Regions from separate parts of the Homo sapiens genome. Here region 1 is linked to region 2. Evidence: fine-mapped expression QTL. A gene starts in region 2. The other region holds a variant in brackets. All regions are shown on one strand. Distances are from middle to middle.

What was found.
Region 1: its variant is fine-mapped to the expression of MMAB in lymphoblastoid cells (GTEx, PIP 0.98).

What each region holds. Positions count from the first base shown.
Region 1 is chr12:109,606,960-109,618,581 of GRCh38, reverse strand. No RefSeq gene overlaps it. Among named protein-coding and RNA genes, the nearest start is that of MVK, 39 kb to the right of the region's middle. RefSeq lists an enhancer at 6,857-7,357. The variant T/A (reference allele first, on the strand shown) is at 6,386.
Region 2 is chr12:109,569,467-109,579,687 of GRCh38, reverse strand. MMAB (metabolism of cobalamin associated B) reads left to right here and starts at 6,184. Exons shown (of 9, transcript NM_052845.4): 1 at 6,184-6,341; 2 at 7,978-8,039. The coding sequence starts at 6,208. It overlaps MVK (mevalonate kinase), which reads right to left and starts at 5,894. Exons shown (of 11, transcript NM_000431.4): 1 at 5,815-5,894; 2 at 4,788-4,879; 3 at 3,543-3,690. The coding sequence starts at 4,865. RefSeq lists silencers at 5,654-5,883, 5,904-6,033 and enhancers at 5,793-6,292, 6,293-6,794.

The sequences.
Region 1 (11,622 bases), 38 kb before region 2:
GCATCCAGGGAAAAATGTCCTGACCTCCTCCTCCTGCCCTGTACCCCCATCCCTACTGGCTGAGGCTGGGCAGGGGAGGTGGTGAGTATACAGATGCCCACTTCCCACACCCCAGGCTGCTGCCCAGGCAAAGCTTCCAAGACCCAGATTGGCCTTGCCTCTCCTGCCTTTAAAAAAAAAAAAAAAAGGAAAAGAAAAGAAATTCCTGCAACTTGAACAATCATTGTGTTGGATTTGGGAGATGTTATTCCTAGTGACAGACAAGGGCAATTATCTGCAATCCGCCAGCAGTTTTAGCCTAATTTCATTACTGCCGTGCAATTCTCCCTGAGCTGCTAGTCTATCAATGTCTTGCAGAATGGATTAGCGGGCACTTTCTTCATCTTCAAATGAATTTCAGTTGTCATGCCCTTGATGAATAGAGCAGGGGCAGGCGGCTGACCTGGGCCAGGGAGTGGCCAGGGGGCAGCAGGCCAGCGCCCTCAGGTCCTGGTGGGAGGTGAGGTGGTGGGCGGTGGTCCTGGGGGTGAGTGGAGGGAAAGTACCTGAGTGGTCCAGCCCTCCCAGACCCCTCCAGGCCCAGGATTTGAGGGCTGCTTGGACTTGTGTGCTGGGGTCTTGCACACTGAGAACCCCATCTAGGACTCCTTCCCAGATGTCAGGCTGAGAATACTGGAGGGGTTCTTTCCTTGATGGATGCTGCTGACTGGCATCCAGGCCCTCCCAACACCCCATTAAAACCCCAAACACCCAAACTCCAGCTTCCAGTCTGCTTCCCTGAGACACCGTGGACCTCACAGGAGCAGGGGCCAGAGCTGTCTTGTGGCCGCTGTGTCCCCAGAGTCTGGCTCGGAGGAGATGCTCAGACAGTGTTTGTTGCAGGACAAATGATTCTCAGTTCTGCAGCAGCTTGGGCCGGGGCCCGGTGCAGGCCTGGCACGTGGCAGGAGCCCAATCACTATTAGACAAATGGCTGGTGGTACGGGTGGCTTATTAGAAAGAAGGTGGAAAAGGGAGGGAGGGAGTGCTTTGTGAGCCCCCACTACACATCAAGCACCGTGCTGGGGACGCTGCTGATGCGGTGTCATTTCATCTCAGAGAGGTGAAGCCGCTACATCCAGGGCATAAGCAAATAAGTTGGAAATTGGCAAACCCAGGCGTGTCTGACATCCTTGCAACTCCCAAGGAGCTCTGTTTCAGGAGTGCTGGGCGTGAAGTGAGATTCTTCTCATGGGCAAGGTGAGGCCTCATGGGACTCAGGGTCTGCAACATGGGGTGAAGTCTCTGCCTGGTGAAGACCCCCTCTTGCCCACTGCCACCCAGAAGACTCCTCCCATAAAACGCTTCTCCAAATTTCTGGGAAGAAGGGCTGTGGTAGGCTTTTCCCTTTTACCATTGGTCTGTTCTCCTGTTCCCTGCCTGGCTCTTTACCCTGGGAAGCTGACCTCCATAGACAGCATCCAGGGGCAACTTGTCCTCTAAGTTTCAGGTGGAATCATCCAATGGGAGGCTGGGAGCGGGCAGAGGGAGAGTTTGGGGTGTCTCTGCCCAACTCAGCTGGCTTAAGTGCTGCATTCCTGGCAATAATCTGTCCCTTTGTGACGAAGGCTCCTGCTCACCTCGTGGCACCCCTCTCCATGGCTCCAGCTCCTTGTGGGATCTGGCAACTCCGTTTCTGCCCCATCAGACCTTGGAAATGAGAAGGGGGGACCTTGCTGTTTCCCGACCCTGATGGTCTCACCATCCCTGTTTGGTTTGCAACTCTGTTTACAGAACTCCCTTTACTAAACTCTCTTCGCTGGTACCATCCCAGTGGAATGCCATGTCCTGCTGGGATACTGACTGGGGCTTGGGGGAGACTATAGCAGCTCACTGTGACAGCAGCTTCTGTTGACCCTGCACCTGCTCTGCGCAGGCACCGGGCTGGGCCATGGGCTCACACCAACCCTTCGGAGACTCCCAGCAGCTCAACAGGACCGCACTATTTACAGAGAAGGATACTGAGGTTCAAAGAGGCAAGGAGACCCTTAAGGCAATGCTTGGGGAAGTGAGGACTTGGGGTTATTATTCCCCTGTCTCCCTGGCTTATCATCTTAACCCATATGATGCACACACTTGACTCTTTGCCCTGCCAGAAACCGTAGCCAGCAGACGTTGGTCTTCCTTAGACCAGACATTCTCTTTCACCCTCAGATGGCAGCCACCATGGATCCCTGAGGCGTCCTTGGTCTCCAGCTGTCTTCCACATCAGCAGCGGAAAGTCAAGCCCTAGAGAAGGGGGCTCCCTCCACAGCAGCCACCCGATCAGCCCCCGGTACCCCCAGAGTGCCTGCTCTCCTCCCAGAACTTCCTCCAGTAGAAGGAAGATCCCTGGATAGGGGTCAGTCCAGCCCCCCACTTTACATGTGGGGAAACAGGTTCAGAGAGGCAAAAAGGTCTTGCTTGAAGCCAAGAGGGAGTCACGCAGAGCTGGCCCCGACCCAGAGAGCCGAGTGGACAACCCCAGGGTTGCAAAATGAGCCTCCTCCCCCACTTTCCAGTTCGGTTTTTTTCTCTGGGCACCTGGGAGACTTTCCCAAGTTATCGATCGCCGGGGCGGCCTTCAGTCAATATGGTGCACTTTACTAATTAATCTTTTCCAGATAATTGCAGGAAATCATTGGTTGGTGTGAAGTGGGAGGTTGGAGAGGCAGCCTCTGTCCCCGACCTGACCAGAGCATCTTCTGGCAGATCCTACCCGCCTGTCCCTCACTCTTCTCTGTCTCCTTCTGGGGCTGATGAGCCACCCCCTCCAGAATCCTCAGCCAGGACTCCCGCCAGCTGTCCTGGCACTGCTCTGGATGTAGCAGGGAACACCGGGAGCAGGACGGTTCTGGTTCAAATCTCAACTTTGGCAATTATTCACTGTGTGACTGCAGACACATCATTTAACCTCCCTCAGCCTCAGCTAAAAAAAACAGACTAGAACTTATGATCTGCATCACAGGCTGCTTACGAGACAAAACAGACCAGGTGCCATGGCTTACTCCTATAATCCCAGCACTTTGGGAGGCCAAGTCAGGAGGATCACTTGAAGCCAGGAGTTCAAGACCAGCCTGGGCAACATAGTGAGACCCTGTCTCTACAAAACAATAAAAAATACAAAATTAGCCAGGTGTGGTAGTGTGTGCCCTGTAGTTCCAGTTACTTGGGAGGCTGAGGCAGGAGGATTGCTTGAGCCCAAAGTTGGGAGGCTGCAGTGAGCTATGATGGTACCACTGCACTCCATCTTGGGTGACAGAGTGAGACCCTATCTCTAAACAGCAAACAAAAAAGATGAAAACATGCTGGGTGCGGTGGCTCATGCCTGTAATCCCAGCACTTTGGGAGGCTGAGACAGGTGGATCACCTGAGGTCAGGAGTCCCAAACCAGCCTGGCCAACATGGTGAAACCCATTTCTACTAAAAATACAAAAATTAGCCAGATGTGGTGGCTCACACCTGTAATCCCAGCTACTCAGGAGGCTGAGGCAGGAGAATAACTGGAACCCGGGGAGCAGAGGTTGCAGTGAGTCAAGATCGTGCCACTGCACTCCAGCCTGGGCAACAGAGTGAGATTCCGTCTCACACATACACACACACACACACACACACACACACACACACACACAGACTGAAAACAAAAGAAGGCATTTTAATACTAATTTAAAATATGACCTCTACAGCTAATAACAGCAACTCCAGCAGCTAACGCTAAACGAGGGCTTTGCCACATTCCAGGTACTGTTCAGAGTGTCTGATAGGTACTATGATTAGTCCCCTTGTATAGAAAGGGAAACTGAGGTTCTGGCCTGAGGTCACACAGCGAGAGGCAGAGCCCCAATCTCTGCTCAGTGTGTAAGAAGCTGATCACCACCTCATGCTGTGTCACCAGGCCCAGGTGAGTGTCCTGCATAGAGCAATGTCCAAGGAGCCAGCTCTCCACTGTGCCCATCTTGGAAGCGGTAAGGAGGTGGGGGTGGGTGTCAGGGGTGGGACAGGGCTCAGGGGCAGCACCCAGGGCTTTCCTCTCTAAGTCCCCTTGTCCCAAAACTCAGGGCCTTCCTCAAAGAGCCCGAGGGAATTCTCCGGCTGGGTAAACTCAGGGTCCCCAGGAGCCTCTCCAGCCCCCACAGTCATTAATCATAACTGAACTCTCCTGGATGAAGTTTCCCATCCCTTTGGGGTTTCTGTCTCCCAGTATCACTTAATATATACCCTCATCGGGCCATATATACCTGCTCCTAATAAACCTCTATGACTTTAATGAACTAAATAGCAAATTACTTTTTTATTCAAGAATGAAATTTCATCATATTCATAATTCATATTTTATTTCAGACATCTGCTGCTGATTACATTACATTTAACTAAAATTAGATGATGCTCAGAATGCAATTAAGACTCTGCCAAATTCTTCGGCCCACCAATGCCGGCGGAGCGCAGCGGGGGCCGCGAGGAACCTAATATGTAATTAGGAGCTATTTTCTAGCTGTTTTTAAAGTCTGAAAATTAGCTGCCTTTATTAATCACACAGACAAATATAAAGTGGAACCAACGCTCGCTGAAATTTCTAAAAGGGATTTTTTGTTTAATTATACACCGCAGAGCGCTGAGACTCGTTCTGCATGTTGATTTGTTGTGCACTGACATTTTGACAACTGGTTCTCAATTTGTCTGTCGTAGTTAGGCAACAACAAAGCCGACGGTAATACTTTAACTTTCAAAACCTTCAGTGTGCCGGGGAGAGGGAGAATGGCATTCCTCACTGCGGGCCCGCAGCTTGGGCTCTCGAAGGCAGAGACACGGGGAGAAGGGCAGGTGAGGGGCGGAGGGGACTCCCGGGACGACGCCAGCTGGGGAGGTGGCTGACATTCTGGATCGGGAGTTACAGGGCCAAGGAACAAGCCCCTGTTCTGCGGGGTGGCTAAGTGGAAACCCTCCCTAATCTCTGGGCCTCAGTTTCCTCCTCTGCACCAAGAATGGGCTGGAGTCTGAGATCTTCAAGGAGCCTGTAGATGCCAAAACTCTGTCTTCTTTTCTCTGTGTGCTAATGTCTTCTGTGTAGCATCATTTGTCCCCTCGGCCTTAGCAGGGGGATGTGATTTTTTTTAGAGACTGTCTCACTCTGTAACCCAGGCTGGAGTGCAGTGGTGTGATCATAGCTCACTGCAGCCTCAAACACCCGGGCTCAAGCAAGCCTCCCTGCTGAGTAGCACCGGGGCTACAGGTTCGAACTCCCCCGCTCAAGCCAACCTCCCTGCTGAGTAGCTGGGTTACAGGTGAGAGCCACAGCACCCAGTCTCCAGAGGAATCCTTTATTATCCCAATGTGCAGAGGATGCAACTGAGACTCTGAGACTCAGCAACTTGTTAACCAACCAGCAGGTGGCCACACCAGAACTCAAACATGGAGTTCACTGACTCCACAATCTGTGGTTCTAACCACTGTATCCACCTCCCTGGCTCAGGAGCCCTGAGCAAGGGACAGCTCTCTGGGCCTCAGATTCCCTTCTGTGATGCTTGGATGTGGTAGAGTGGCACCCAGCCCTGCTGGGGGCCAGGGACAGAGTACACCAGCAGGATCACAGCATGAAGCAGGATTGAGCCCCACACAGGGACCCCCAGTCTCAGTGGAACTCCTGAGCTCACCCCATTCCCTTGGAGGTTCCTTAGGCCACCCTGTGGGTGAAACTACCCAGTGATGTCCAGAAAGTCCCAGGACAGAGAGTGACTGCCAAGGGGCCCAGATTCTACCCCATGCCCAGACAACAATAACAGATGGCTTTTTGTCCCATGTGCCTAGTACTCTGTTGACACTTTATTACCAGCGGGCACAATGGCTCACACCTGTAATCCTGGCACTTCAGGAGGCCAAGGTGGGAGGACCACTTGAGCCCAGAAGTCCGAGGCCAGCCTGAGCAACAGAGAGATCCCGCCTCTAGGAAAAATTAAAACTTAGCTGAGTGTGGTGGTGTACACCTGTAGTCCCAGCTGCTTGGGAGGCTGAGGTAGGAGAATCAATTGAGCCTGGGAGGTAGAGGCTGCAGTGAGCCGTGATCGCACCACTGAACTCCGGCCTGGGCAACAGAGTGAGACCCTGTCTCAAAAAAAAAAAAAAATAATATCACCTACACTCCTTCCACTAACCCTCCAAAGTGGATTCACAACCAGGCTTGGAGTCTCACAGCCTGGATTCAAACCCAACCCCTGCAATTTGCCTGCTGTGGTAACCTTGGTCGGGCTGCCTCAGTTTCCATATCAAGAAAATGAAGAGCTTGAGCACACCCACCTCTCTCGGTTCTGGGGAGGACTGAACAGGATAATTGGGTGTGTGGCCCAGATCAAGCCCTCAGCTGATGGAAGGT[T/A]CCTGTTACCACCCCATTTGACAGACAGGCACATTGAGGCTCTGCAGGGAGAAGTGCTTGCTCTGAGGTGCCTGCCGCCAGGTGGGTCTGATGCCACAGCCCATGCTCCTACCCCACCACCATAATGCCCCCCTAATTCCCACCAGGGAGGACTGGGGAAGGGCCTGAGGACCCACTGTGCAGTCTGGGCTGCCCCATCTGGCCATTGTGACCATCTCCAGGGGCTCTCAGGGTGTTTTTACCTTCCGTCTCTCACTTCCTTTTTGCTCCCTGGAGAGAGTGCCCAGCAGCTTTCTGCAGGAGCCAAGGCATGGCAGAGCCCACCACGGGGTCTTTTGCCCCTGCTGACTCCAGCCCAGTGGAGCCAGCACCATGACCTGCCCAGGCCTGTTTTTAGGAGCCAGCCCTGCCTCCTCCTCCTGCCCACAGACCCATCTGATGAAAACGCCAACGGAGAAAAGGAGGTTGTTTTGGGTGACAATGAAACTGCCAATAAAATCTCAAACGCAGAGATAGGCAATGACTATTTCACTTATTCTGACAGTTTGAGACTTTGCTGGGGAAGGGAAGTGACAGGCACCTGCCGACATCAACACCACTTCTTTCGGAGAACAGCCCGTGGGAGGGGGCTTCCCGGGAGACCTGCCTTGCCCAGATGCCAAGCGGGCTGTGGCTGCTGCTGTTGGCAGCAGGGGCTGCGGTCACCCACGGGGAGAGACTGGACACTCTGACTCTATCCACAACTCCCCTCTGGCACAGACATATGCCAGGCTCTGGCTGGAGACCACAGAGGCAGAAACAACCAGCAAAACCCCTGCCCTTAGGGTTTGTTTTGTTTTTTTAAGACAAGGTCTGGCTCTGTCATTCAGGCTGGAGTGCAGTGGTGCAATCTCGGCTCGCTGTAACCTCTACCTCCTGGGCTCAAGCCATCCTCCCACCTCAGCCTCTCGAATAGCTGGGACTACAAGCATTCATCACGACACCCAGCTAATTTTTGTATTTTATTGTAGAGATGGGGTTTCGACATGTTGCTCAGGCTGGTCTCGAACTCTTGAGCTCAAGCCATCCTGCCATCCTCCCATCTTGGCCTCCCAAGTAGCTGGAACTATAAGCGCTTACCACAGTGCCTGGCTAATTTTTGTATTTTTTGTATAGATGGGGTTTCACCCTATTGCCTAGGCTGGTCTCAAACTCATGAGCTCAAGCAATCCTCCCACCTCAGCCTCCCAAAGTGCTAGGATTACCCACATGAGCCACCATGCCCAGCCCCTTAGGGGTTATTGGGAGTGGAATCGTGTCCCCCACAAAGAGATTTTGAAGTCCTAACCCCGGATCCCCATGAATGTGACTTTATTTGAAAATGAGGTCTTTGCAGATGTAATCAAGTTAAGATGAGGTCATGAGGGTGGGCTGCTGTCCTTATAAGAGGGAATGCCATGTGAAGCCAGACACACAGGGAGAAGGCCATGTGTCAGCAACAGCCAAGGCTGGAGTGATGCAACCGCAAGCCCAGGACTGCCAGCCACCACCAGAAGCTAGGAAGAGGCAAGGGAGGGTTCTCAGAGGACCCAGTGTCTCAGAGGGTCCCTGGTCCTGTCGACACCTTCATTCTAGACTTCTGGCCTCCTGAACCATGACAGAGTAAATCTCTGTTGTTTTAAGCCACCACATTTATGGTACTTTGTTATGGGAGCCCTAATTAGAACACCGTTATAAAGGGCTTCCATGCCAACTAGGGCATCGGCAAAAGAGGCCCCACCTCCAGCTGGAGACTATCAAAAGAGGGGTATATGGCCGGGCACAGTGGCTCATGCCTGTTATCCCAGCACTTTGGGAGGCCGAGGGGTGGGGGATTGCTTGAGCCCAGAAGTTCGAGACCACCCTGGGCAACATAGCAAGAACCCCATCTCTACAAAAAAAAAAAAAAAAAAGTAAAAAATTAGCCAGGCATACTAGTACATGACTGTAGTTCCAGCTACTTGAGAGGTTGAGGTGGTAGGATGGCTTGAGCTCATGAGTTCAAGGCTGCAGTGAGCTGTGATTGTGCCACCACACAGCAGCCTGGGTGACAGAGTGAGAACCAGTCTCAAAAGAAGGGAGCAGGGTATACCCGCTCCTTGAACAGAGTGACAAGGTGGACTCCAAAACTGAAAGGCTGCTCCAGGCACCTACAAAATCTTCCTATCTGTCACCTCCTCTCCATCTGTCCCTAATGCCACTGCCCCTCTCCAGCCATTGTACCTCTCACCTGACTCCTTTCCCCCTGCCCCTCCATTTATCATGCCGCAGCCAGAGAACTTTATAAAGCATCATTATGACCCCACCATCCCTGCCTAACACCCACCCTGGCTCCCCAGAGCCCTCAGGATAAAACTTGCTTTATGTTGGCCTCATACTTACTGTAGGTTCCAACTGAACACAGAACAGCGTTTGGATTCTCTGCGCACACCACGGTATTGCTCACTTCAGTGCCTTTGCTGCCTCAAATGCCCTCTCTTACCTTCTAGCCCAGCCAAAATTCCACCAAGGTACCTCTTCCTCCAGGAAGCCTTCCTTGATCCCATGCCAGGCTAGGAAGAAGAGGCACCCCTCTTCTTCCCTGTTCCCATGGTAACTCAGAATCCACTGCTCTTCACTGTCATCATCAGTTTGCTTAGCTTGCTCTGCCCTGTAAGCCCTGGAGGGCAGGGAAGGGTTCATCTGAGCTCAGGCAGTACCTCCACCGGATACCTCCGCCCCAGCCACACTTGGCCCTTGGCCAAGAAGCTGGCCCTTGAAACAAATGCTGGCTCAACCATCAAGACCCAGGCCAGACCACCTGCTACTTGTGACACTCTGTGAGTGTGACACTCTGCGAGTCCAGGGCTGGAGAAGAGGAACTGACTTTGGGATCAAAGGCTCTGCGCTTGAGCCCCATCTACCTGCTGGCTGGCCTTAGGCATGCTGCTTCCTGTCTCTGAGCTTCATTATCTTTGTCTGTGAAATGGGAACAGCAAGACCTACAAATATGGGGCTGAATTGTAGTCATTATTAATGATTATTATCATCATCATAATGATCAGTTCATTGTAATTGTAATGATTATTTTGTGGGCTTCTGTTTCCAAATCCATGTATCTTTCAAGGTTGCCTTCCCTGCCCAACTGCTCAGACTTGTGAGTCACGCATGCACCCTGGGAGAGTACTCAACATTCCTATATGTCATTGAATTCTTGTAACTCTTTACATATTTATTTGATATTCTTGTAACTGGATGACATCTCCCTTACCAGCAGGGACTGTGTCATATTTCAGGGGCTCTTGAGAAACTCAGCACCTGCTGCTTGATAGATGTGTGCCCTCCCTGCCCACCCACGCCCTATATCGATCTGAAACACCCCAGGGCCAGGGCCTTGAGTTGAGGAAGAAACCACAGGGTAGAGGTTATAAACTGGATGAGAGCTCAAGCAGACCCTTGTTTCCAGCCAGCTCTGCCCCTAGCAGGCTGTGAGACTGAGGTTCAGCCACTTCACCTTTCTGAGTCTCAAATTTCCCTTCTGCAAAGTGGGGCATAGAATACCTACTTCTCAGGACATCGGGAGACAGCGCACACCAAAGTGTCTGGCACATGGCAGATGTTAGATGAATGAGCAGATATTGAACCTCAGAGTCCTGGGGTTGATCCCAGCTTCACCCCTTCCTGGCTGGGTGATGTCAGGCACACCCCACCACAACTCTGACTGTCAGGTTTCTCTTCTGGGGAATGGAGAGCTCTTGTGAGAATGAAATGAGGTCATGGGTGTTAAGCCTGGCACCAGTGTGTGCAGTAAGTAATGGCTACTATTTCATTGCATTGAATTGTAGAAATGTTCAGACCTGCATGTCAGGGCCAGTGCCCCCACACCCAAGATCTGTGAAACGGAGTGAGGGAGAAGATGCAGACGGGACCTGGCAGCATGAGGCCCTTCCCCAAAATAAGGACATTTCCTAGGCCTGGGGCCTTCCAGCCCATCACCTCAAAGTACTCACTAGTCCCCTGAATGCTGAGAGGAAAGGTCTATAAAGGCCCTTCCTTCCCTTTGAGTAAAGCAAGGATAAGAAGAGAAGCATCCACACCTGCTTTGGACCAGCACCTGACCTCCACCTATTCCAAGACCCAGCAAACCCCTTTGGAGGGCTGGGCAGGTGGCCTAGGGAAGCCAGATGTACTGAGCTGAGCAGGATGGCCATGTTGCAGGCAAGGGGGCCTTTGTCTGTCTACTTCTCTGTTCATTCATTCATTCCTTTATGCATCCATTCATCCAGAAAGACTCAAGCTCTTAGCATGAGCCAGGCACTGTGCTAGACTCAGGGGGACCGGTGAGTGGGCTCCTATGTGTGCCCTCAGGAAGGCGCAGTTTCCTGAGGAGACAGGCGATGCAACAAGTCAACAACAGATGGCACATTTGGACATAAAGCAAAGGGAGAGATGGAGGGCAAGAGGGGAGAACTGCATTAGGAGGAGGGTGGGTCAGGGAAGGCTTTTGGAGGAGGTGAGTGGTAAACTGAGGCCACATGCCAGCCAGGTGAAGTGTGAGGGTGCGGAGGAGGTGTGTGTGTGTGTGGCGGGGGTGGGGGGGTCGGGGGGATGTTCCAGGCAGAGGGAACAGCAGAGGCAAAGGGCCTGGGGTGGCACTTGTTTCCATCTCCATCATCATCACTGTCATCAATGCTCCCATCTAGCCAGGGCTCCCTGTGTGAGCACCGGGAGGGACTCCATGTTCATTTTTCTCTCCTGCACCTGAGTGTGGGCTTCTGGAAGGCAGGCTGGATCAGCATGGCCCACCACTACCTCCTCTGTGACTCAGCACAGCACCCAGTGCAGAATCGTCACCCCGTCCCATGCGCTGAGTGAACATGCACAGTGAATACGCAGGCCCTGTGTTCAGTGCCCTGCCCCTGCCTCCTCGCTTTATCCCCACAACCACCTGATGAGCCGGTTCCTCGTCTCCATTTTTCACATAAAGAAACTGAGGCTGAGAGGCAATGTTGCTCACCCAAGGTCACACAGCCAGCAAGTGGCAGAGCTGAGATTCGAACCCAGTTCTATCTGGGCTCTTCTGCTCCATTGCCCAGGCCCTCAGGCCCCTGGATCAGGAAGTGGTGGGGTTGGGATGGAGGGGGAGCACAGAGCAGGGCCCCCAGCCCCCTGCTTCCAAAGGAAGCAGGTCCGAGAGGGAAGGTATGGCCAGCCAGCTCCATAAATAACCCGGGTCCCAG
Region 2 (10,221 bases):
AATTTATGGTCTGAACCCCACACCCAAGTCTGTTCATTGGCTTTAGGCAGACTTGGGTTTGAGTCCCAACTGTGCCATTTACTGGCCGTGTGACTTAACCTCCCTGAACCTGTTTCCCACCTTGGTAAAACAGGGATAACAACAGTGCCTCTTCTTACGGTTGTCAGGAACGTAAAGTTAAATAAGGGGTGTAAACTTTTTAGCACAGCACCTGGCATGTAGTAAGTGCTAATTAACAGTAGTTTTAAGGTTGGGTGCAGGCGCTTATGCCTGTAACCCCAGTACTTTGGGAGGCCAAGGTGGGCAGATCACTTGTGCCTAGGAGTTTGAGACCAGCCTAGGTAACATGGCGAAACCCCAACTCTACAGAAAGTACAAAAACTAGCCAGGCATGGTGGCGCACACCTGTGGTCCCAGCTACTCAGAAGGCTGAGGCAGGAGGATCGCTTGAGCCCAGGAGGTTGAAGAAACAGTGAGCTGTGGTCGCACCACTGTACTCCAGGCTGCATAACAGAGTGAGACCCTGTCTCAAAAAAAAAAAAAAAAAAAATTGTAGTCTTAAAACAAACACACACAGACACACAGACACACACAGAGAATGCTGGCTCAATCGCACAAGGGCCTAGGTTTCACCTTCCATTGTATAAAACCAAAATCAAAAGAGTGTTAAGTTAACCCCCAAAATATTTCCCTCCTCCAAAAGATAATCATCAGGAATAGGACAGTGTAAATGCGAGGCGGTGCCTGGGCAGAAGGGGAAGGTGAGGCAGGTTGTTCCCAGGGATGTACAGGAACCTGGGCCACTTTCCTCTGAGACACTGAGAAGGCAGAGCCTTTCTGGCCAGCTCACCTTTACAAATCACTCGCTGAGCCTCAGGTCACATTCTCAAGGGACTGGGAAATGGAATTGGGCATGCGTGTGTTAGGAAACTTCGGGCACTGGTTAAGTACTGGGTAAATGTGTGTTGAATGGATTAATGATATACTCAAATGGCCAAGTCATGGCATCATTGAGAACCCAGGTATTTCAGAGCTTTGTAATCGAGATGGAACAGCTGTTAAGAGCCTGGACTTTGGGGCTAGGAGAAACCTGGGTCTGAATCCTTTCAGTGTCACCAACAAGTGTAACCTGAGCCACTTGACCTCTGAACTTTAATTTTCAGATCTGTACAATGGGGATGAATACCACCACCTACTTCCAGGGAATGCTGGCGAATTCTAAGAGTGCTAACATATGTGAACACACTTAGTGCCTGGCACACGTAAGTGCCCAATAAGTGTTCACTGTAGTAGCACGGTGCAGTGGTATGTGCTTATATTCCCAGCTACTCGGGAGGCTAAGGCAGAAGAACACTTGAGCCCAGGAATTTGGGACCAGCCTGGGCAACATAGTAAGACCCTGCCTCTTAAAAAAAAAAAAAAAGTTCAATGTTTATTACTATCAGGAGGGAGCAAAAGGACACTGAAAGAAAGATGGTAGATCTTTGCAACCTAGAAGATAGTATGTCTCCCAGAGCTCCAAAACTAACAAGCCCTTCCCTACATAATGCACTCTGTGTCGCACCCCTAATGCCTGCCTCCAGTGTCGTCGGATCCTCATGGCAGCCCTCAGTCAGGAAACATGTCTCTGCTCCGAGGCCCAGAGGATGAAGTGACCTGCCCCAGGTTCACTGAGGGAGTTGGAGTGGTCTGAGACATGTTCCCCCATACCTGGCTGCTTCCACCCCAAGCTACTGACATACACAAGTTGCAGCTGGTTCTCAGGAGACATTTCTGGTCTGGCTGGGTGGCCCTGTGCACCTTGGAAAGCAAGTTCCATGTGCTCTGGCTGGTTGTTTTCAGATGCACGCTCCAAAGGAGTGGCTTTTAACTGAGGTGTCCCCAGAATCACCCAAGGAACCCCTTTCAAAAACTCCTACCACCACTACCAACTCCCAATAAGAGAGGGGCGGAGCCAGGAGCCCATCCATCTGTATTGGTTAAAAAAAACCACCACCACCATCACAAAAAACTCCTGGGTGATTCCAAGATATGATGAAGTTAAAAAGGGCTGCTCTAAAATGAGGATTTTGGCTGGGCACAGTGGCTCTCACCTGTAACCCCAGCACTTTGGGAGCCCAAGGTGGGAAAGTGGAAAACTGCTTGAGCCCAGGAGTTCCAGACCAGCCTGGGCAACACAGTGAGACCCCATCTCAACAAGTGAAATGAGAATTTTCAACTCTTCCTCCATCCCCATACGGCATATGGGAGTGACTGTGGTTTCTCATGGGGAATGGGAAGCAGGTGTCAAGGGTTCAGGTGCAGTGTAAGGAAAAAACCCAAAAAGATTCTCATTTACCCCATCCTGGCTGAGAAACACTGTTCCAAAGAGCAAGGCTTCATTCAGCCCAGGGAGCAGACAGTAAACTGACAACAGAGAAAACACACGTCAGCTCTGGGGCAGGTACAGGGGACTCCACTGATGGAAAAAGCTGGCCTGCTTATGAGTGGATGAAATCTTCACAGTGCTGTCAAAAATCAGCACACACACGTGACACACAAAGAAAAAATCAGTACTTCTGAATGGTTTATATGGCCTGACCCAATTTTGGTTAAAAAACCAAGATATCTCCCTGTCTCTATCAATCTTTCTATCAATCTACAGAAAATCACCCAGAAGGATTAATGCCTAAATGCTTAGAGTCATTACTGGGGTCAGGGAAAGGAGAAGGGAAATAATAGGTGATTTTTAAAATTACAATGTCCCAGTATTGACTATATTTTCCAATAATAAGCATAGGTAACTTGTACTTTTATTAAATTTTTTTTTTTTTTTTTGAGATGGAGTCTTGCCCTGTCCCCCAGGCTGGAGTGCAATGGCGCAATCTTGGCTCACTGCAACCTCTGCCTCCCAGGTTCAAGCGATTCTCCTACCTCAGCCTCCTGAGTAGCTGAGATTACAGGTGTGTGCCACCACACCCAGCTAATTTTTGTATTTTTAGTAGAGACATGGTTTCGACATGTTGGCCAGGCTGGTCTCGAACTCCTGACCTCAGATGATCCGCCCGCCTTGGCCTCCCAAAGTGCTGGAATTACAGGCATGAGCCACTGTGCCTGGCCTACTTTTATCAATTTTTAATTATACAAAATGCCAATATATTCTCCTTATTTAAAACATGTGTCACTTTGTCTACTCTCTGGCCCTAGGTCTCTCCCAGGAGAACTAATCACCACTGCCAATCTGATGTCTATGCCCCCGAGACCTTTTCTATCATTTATACACATATTTATACTTAAATACGTATGTTTGCTGTTTTGCATTTTTTTCACTCAACAATAGGCCTTGATGATCTGTCCACAACAGCCCACAGAGATCCAATGCATTGTTTTACACCTATAAATTTTAAAAAAATAAAATGAGTGAAGCTAATTTTATGAGGTCAGGGTAGAAAACACCCGGGAAATAGCTGGCCCCTGGCTCCCTTGGGGACAGCCCAGAATACCTGGCCAGCTGCCCTCTCTGTAGGCTCTTAGCACACCTGGTTTCTCCTCCTTGCACTCACCCAGAAAGCTTGTGTCCAGTGACTGAAGCCTGGCCACATCCCAGGCCCGCTTGATACCAATGTTGGGTAAGCTGAGGTCCACTTTCCCATTGCTGTGGGGTTGAAGCCGGAGGAATGTTCTCAAGTTCAAGGATACAGCCAGTGCTACCTATAGAATAAATGACAAAAGCAATAAGCCTGAGGGTGAGTGGCAAAGGGGCCAGGACCCACGTGCTAAGAAGAGAGCAAACATAAGCACAGAGGCCACTCCTAGCCATGCCCTTGCCAGACACTGCTAATCAACCTTGGCATGCTCTCCCACTAAGCCTGGGAACAGCCACCATCGATCAGCTAAAAGTTAAAATCCACTTTGCCTTCTGCCTGCAAAATTTCAGAGGTTCTCAATACCAAGGAATCACTTCCCCATAATCACCATGTTTTCAATGAGAAATATAAGAACATAAAGAATAGCAGTGAGAAGCCAGGTGTGGTGGCTCATATCTGTAATCCCAGCACTTTGGGAGGCCAAGGCAAGAGGATCACTTGAGCCCAGGAGTTTGAGACCAGCGTAGTGTCAGACCACGTCTCTACAGAAAAATAAAAGAAAAAAATTAGTGGGGCATGGTGGTACACACCTGTGGTCCCAGCTACTTGGGAGGCTGAGGTTGGAGGCTGCAGTGAGCCATGATCGCAAGATTGCACTCCGGTGACAGAGCAAGACTGTCTCAGGAAAAAAAAAAAAAAGCAGAGTGCAGCAGAGGTGGTTTCAGACAGACTTAGGTTCACACCAAGCTCTACCAAGGTATATAGGACTTGGATCAAGTTACCACTTCTCTCCTAAGCCTCAGTTTGCACATTTGTAAAATAGGATAATAAAAGGGTATGCCTTGGGGGTAGCTGTAAGGGTAAAATGAGATAATGGATGTTTTCAACTCCTTTGCTAGATCATCCTTCCAACTTCTAAATGTCTTAGTGCCCCGGAGCTCAGTTCTCAAACCTCTTTCCTTCTGCATCAAAGCTCACTCCTAGGTGATCTCATTCCACTCACAGGGCTTTATATTATAATCATCTTTTTGCTATCATACCGAGCGAGGCCCAAGAATCCCTTCAGTGGGCATAAGAAATCTTTTCCTTGCCTGGCTGGGGAGAACCTGATCTCTCTGATCTGCTCCCAAGCTGTGCCTCAGGGTGTCCTTTTACCTTCTTACAAAATTAGCATCAGGGAGAAGGGGTACCCAATCCTTAAAGGCTCTAACGGCTTTGTACCTTGCCATGTACCACGGCATGTTCTCCATGAAGGATGACTTTCCCCGGAGCAGACACCAGTAGGACTTCTGACAACATGGCTCCTGGGAATCCTAAAAGGGAAAGCCAATGAGAAGAGCAAAGATCTCTAGATGTCAGAACCAGCAGGAAGAGATCTTAGAACACCTAGTTCAAGCCCATCATAATAACAAAAAAGGTAGTTACCGTCCAGCACTTGCTACGTACCAGAAAGGCAATGCAGGAGTCAACTGGACACATCCAACAGATCTGGGTTCAAATGCCAGCTCTTCCACTCCCCAGTGATGTCATCTTAGTTAACTCACTTAAATGGCTAAGAACCTCGGTTTCCCCACACGTTATATGGAGAGAAAATAACCGTACCTACCTCGGTGGATGTTAGGAAGGTTAAATTAACGCAAGGGAAACACTTGGCGGTGTCTGGCACCTACTAATCATTCAATTACTGAGAGCTACTTATTACTGGCTCTGTTCTTCGTTTCAGCTTTTACAACTACTACTATTAAAGGTAGAAATTACATGAAATCATGGAGCAGAAAGAACTCTTTGCTGGACATTTAGGCTGTTTCCAATGTGTCACAATTATAAACAAGGCTGCAGAAAACACCCAGTACGCCTCGTTTTGCACACTTAAATGAGTATTTCTGCAGGACAGAGTCCTAGAAAGGAGCTTGCAGGGTCTATAGGTGTGTGCAATTTACACTTTTATACATAACGCAAAATTATCCTCCGCTTAAGGCTTTACGTAGATTACCTTACGCTAAGATTCAGGTGTACTATGAGCTAAGTACTATCGTGATCCCCATTTCTTAGAAAAACTGAGGCTCAGAGCGGGGAATCCCCTTGCTTGTCAAGCTCAAAATCACGACTGTCAGATTGAGGTCGCCGATCCCTCGGGGCAAGACTCTCAGAGCTGGGTAAACTGAGCCACAGAAGCTGGACGCCTGGCTCAGCGTCGTCCTGGGTCTAGGACCTCGCGCCGCCCGGCCGCCCGACCCCGGCCTCTCACCTGCCGCCGCCGCCGCCTCCCCGGCCGCCGCCCCTCCGCGCCGAAGCCGGAGCAGCTCCCCAACTCCCACAACCCAGAGCGCCCGTGCCTCAAGGGGAGGAGGCGTTGTACTTCAGGCCAGCCAATCAGAGCGCGCGAGCCCGGAGTACCTTTACCAATAGGCTTGAACATTGGTCAATAGGTGTTGCAGCCAAGCCGACACGGGTTTTCCCGCCCCGCTCCTTCCGTTAAACCAATGGGAAACAAGTCCCTGGGAGTGTCCCGCCCTGGGGTGAGAACTGCGAACCAATAAAAATTGAAACCTGAGCGGTGGCGCGGCCAGCTGTGGGTGGAGTCACCCCGCGGACTGGACGGGAACCTGGCGGGGTCAGGTCCCGTCAAGCAGCCTGGCTCATGGCTGTGTGCGGCCTGGGGAGCCGTCTTGGCCTGGGGAGCCGTCTTGGCCTGCGCGGGTGCTTCGGCGCCGCCAGGCTCCTGTATCCCCGTTTCCAGAGCCGCGGCCCTCAGGGCGTGGAAGACGGGGACAGGTGAGTGGCTGGCGGGAAGGGCAACTCGAACACCTGCCGTGAATCGTGGTGTCGTCGCCATGGGTACGTCACACCGCCGTGAGGTCACCGCGGCAACCGTCAGGTGACGTCTCCACGCTGTTCTGACGTCACCATGGCAACGTGGGCCACGTGGGCGCCAGAGACCAGGTAGTCTTTGCCTAAGTCCCAATGAAGTCCCGCTATCATCGGGCAGGGCAGGGCATATCCCATGTGGGCCAGGAGGGCTCTCGACTCAGATTGTGACCAATCTCCAAAGCAGTTTATTCCCCAGGTCCCAGATACACCAGCACCTTCTAAAGATGGCTTTCCTCATATTCCTTGAAACTTGCACCTCAACCCAGACCTCAGAACCTCTAGAGTACCGTGGATTAATAATGGATTAATTTAGTTCACAGATCCAGGAAATTAACCTTCGAATGGGCTTGTAATGTCACATTTTAATTTTGAGCTATGTCCTTGAGTTGTTTACATTGTTTTTTGAAAATGCCACTTTTTGAGCTGTATTTTGGCAATTCTTCATCTCTGAGTACACTCGAAGCCTCATACTATGGAAGTGGCTCAGGTTTCTTTTCCTGCAAGAGGCCCTGAGTTGGTGGAGTATAAGATAAAAATTTGGGTAGGATAGAGTTAAGAGTCCTAGCTACTTGGGAGGCTGAGGCAGAGGATCACTTGAGCTCAGGAGTTCAAGGCTGCAGTGAGCTATGATCATGCCACTGCACTGCATTCCAGCTTAGGCAACAGAGCAAGACCCTGTCTGTGAACAAAATAATCATAGGCCAGATACGGTGGCTCACGCCTGTAATCACAACACTTTGGGAGTTTGAGGCAGGAGTATTGCTTGAGCTCAGGAGTTCAAAACCAGCCTGAGCAACATGGTGAAACCCGTCTCTACCAAAAAAAAAAAAAAAAAAAAATTAGCTGGGTGTGGTGGTATACACCCGTGCTCCCAGCTGCTCGGGAGGCTGAGGTGGGAGGATTGTTTGAGCCTGGGAGGCAGAGGTTGCAGTGAGCCTAGATCGTGCAACTGCATTTCAGCCTGGGTGACAGAGTGAGACCCCATCTCAAAATAATAATAATAATAATAAATAAATAAATAATTTCGGTAGGATAGAAGTTACAGTTTGTGCTCTGGTCTAGGACAGTTTTGGGCATCCCACTCCTGCCTCTTCTTGGATGGTCTAGGAAGGTGTCTCATCTGAGCCATAGTTTCCTCCTCAGTAAAATGAAGAGAATAGGTGTTGGCTACCTTTGGGGTTGTGGAAAGATTCCAGGATAATTCCAGAAGATAATGCCTGTAAACTACTTGGCACAGTGCAGGGACAATGGCAAAGGATCAATCAAGTCCTTCAGCAAATATTTATTGAGCATCTTTGTTGAGCAAGGCATTACATCAGCTACTCTACACACTCTGTCATCCAGCTCTGGTCTTGCCCACAAAATGTTTGCTATTAGAAAGGATCTAGGGGAAAGAAATCAACAAGAGATGACCATCTAAGCAGTAAGGGGTAAGTGCTGCCTCTGAGGTTACAAGCAGCAAGCTGGGACCCTCTGAAGGAGCTGACCCTCTGTGTAAGCCATCCCCACTCACCAGATACTGATGTTTATTTCTCATTAGGCCACAGCCTTCCTCGAAGACACCCAGGATCCCCAAGATTTACACCAAAACGGGAGACAAAGGTAGGGTGGGGACAGGTGAAAAATGCAAAGAAATACTCATGGCATACACCATTTTAAAGTTCTTCCAAATTCTTTGCAGCCACTTTAAAGTATAATATACCAGGCGCGGTGGCTCATGCCTGTAATCCCGGCACTTTGGGAGGCCCTGTTGGGCTAATCATCTGAGGCCAGGAATTTGAGACTAGCCTGGCCAATGTGGTGAAACCCCATCTCTACTAAAAATACAAAAATTAGCTGAGTATGGTGGTCCATGCCTGTAACCCCAGCAGCTACTTGGGAGGCTGAGGCAGGAGAATTGCTTGAACTCGGGAGGCAGAGGTTGCAGTGAGCCAAGATCATGCCACTGCACTCCAGCCTGGGTGACAGAGCAAGACTCCATCTCAGAAAAAAAAAAAGTCTCAGAAAAAAAAAGTATGATATTTGACAGATCTCAAAATATGTTACAAAAATGTAATGTGAAATGAAAAACACCCAAGAGATATTAAATGACAAAAGCCTGAATCTGTCTGGATAAGCATGTACATATATGTGTGTTCAGGTGTGTGTAGAATAGTCTGAAAGGTTACACCTGGGACTGTTCTGGGAGAGAGATTAAGTTGTGAGAGGGGAACAAACAGAAGGACTTTCACTATTTACATACTTTTATTCTATTTTATTATTTTTTATAATGAGTATATATTACTTTAATAGTTTTTAAAATGCTAGAACATGTTATATAGAAAAAAGTAAGATGCAGAAGAATGCGTTGCTATGATCCTTTTTTTTTTTTTTTTTTGATACAGGGTTTTACTCTGTCACCCAGGCTGGAGTGCAGTGGCTCAGTCATGGCTCACAACAGCCTCCACCTTTCAGACTCAAGCAATCCTCCCACCTCAGCCTTCTGAGTATCTGGGACAACAGGCACACATCGCCATGCCTGGCTAATACTTTTTAATTTTTTTTGTAGAGATGAGGTCTTGCTGTGTTGCCCAGGCTGGTCTTGAACTGCTAGGCTCAAGGTATCCTCCCAGCTCAGCCTCCCAAAATGCTGGGATTACAGGAGGCATGAGCTACCGCACCAAGACAGTATACCATTTTTTGTAGTACAAAAGCATGCAGACCACTAGTATGTATTGTTTTTTGGATATATACTTGTATAGTAAAAGTATAAAAGCATGTACGGGACATACTCAGTGCCACTGAATGGTAAACTTAAGAAGGGTCAAAATGGTAAAATTTCTGTTATGTATCATCTGTTACCACAATTAAAAAGAAGGAAGAGGATGTTGGAAAGGACTTATTGTAGGGTTGGGCTTGTGTTGGGTGGTTACAAGGAAGTGGGGCTTTGTTCTGGATTGAATCCTGTTAGGAAGCAGGGCTGTTTCTGTCACTGGGTATCTTTTTTTGTTTTTTGAGACAGGGTCTAGTTCTGTTGCCCAGGCTGGAGTGCAGTGGCACGATCTCAGCTCACTGCAACCTCCTGGGTTCAAGCAATTCTTATGCCTCAGCCTCGCGAATAGCTGGGACTACAGGCATGCATCACCATGCCCAACTAATTTTTTCTGTTTTTAGTAGAGACGGGGATTTGCCATGTTGGCCAGGCTAGTCTCGAACTCCTGGCCTCAAGTGATCTGCCCACCATGGCCTCCCAAAGTCCTGGGATTACAGTGTGAGCCACTGCACCTGGCCTGTAATTGGGTATGTTAATAATTTGTTTCTAGAAGACAGAAGGGACAAAGAGGTGCTAACGCTGTAATGGATAAAGATGCAGCAGTCACTCACATTAGCCAGGGAAGGGGGAGGTTTGGTCATCTTTTGGAGTTTGGACACAGTCGTCTGTGCTCAGACGTTCTTCCGCAGTGGCCTTGTCTTGGTCTCGAACCGTCATAGTCATAGAGTGGCCTGTCTGATGGTTTTCTGTGAAATGGTTTGTGTTCAGCAGAACACCACAGTCTACCTGTGAGTGCCAGGCCGGCACCTGGCAACCCCAAAGCCTGCCCGATAGCGAAAGCCAGCTCCAAACTGTCAGGGGCAGTTTTCACTTTCTCAGAGGTTGGGGGAGAAAGGCGGGACTGTGAGCTAGGCAGAGGCACAGAGGACTTTGACTTCATGTGAAATATAATGGTAATGTATATATGATATAAAATATAGAACGTGTTGTATTTCTTTATCAGGATGGTTAGTATGTGGTTTTTAAGTTGAA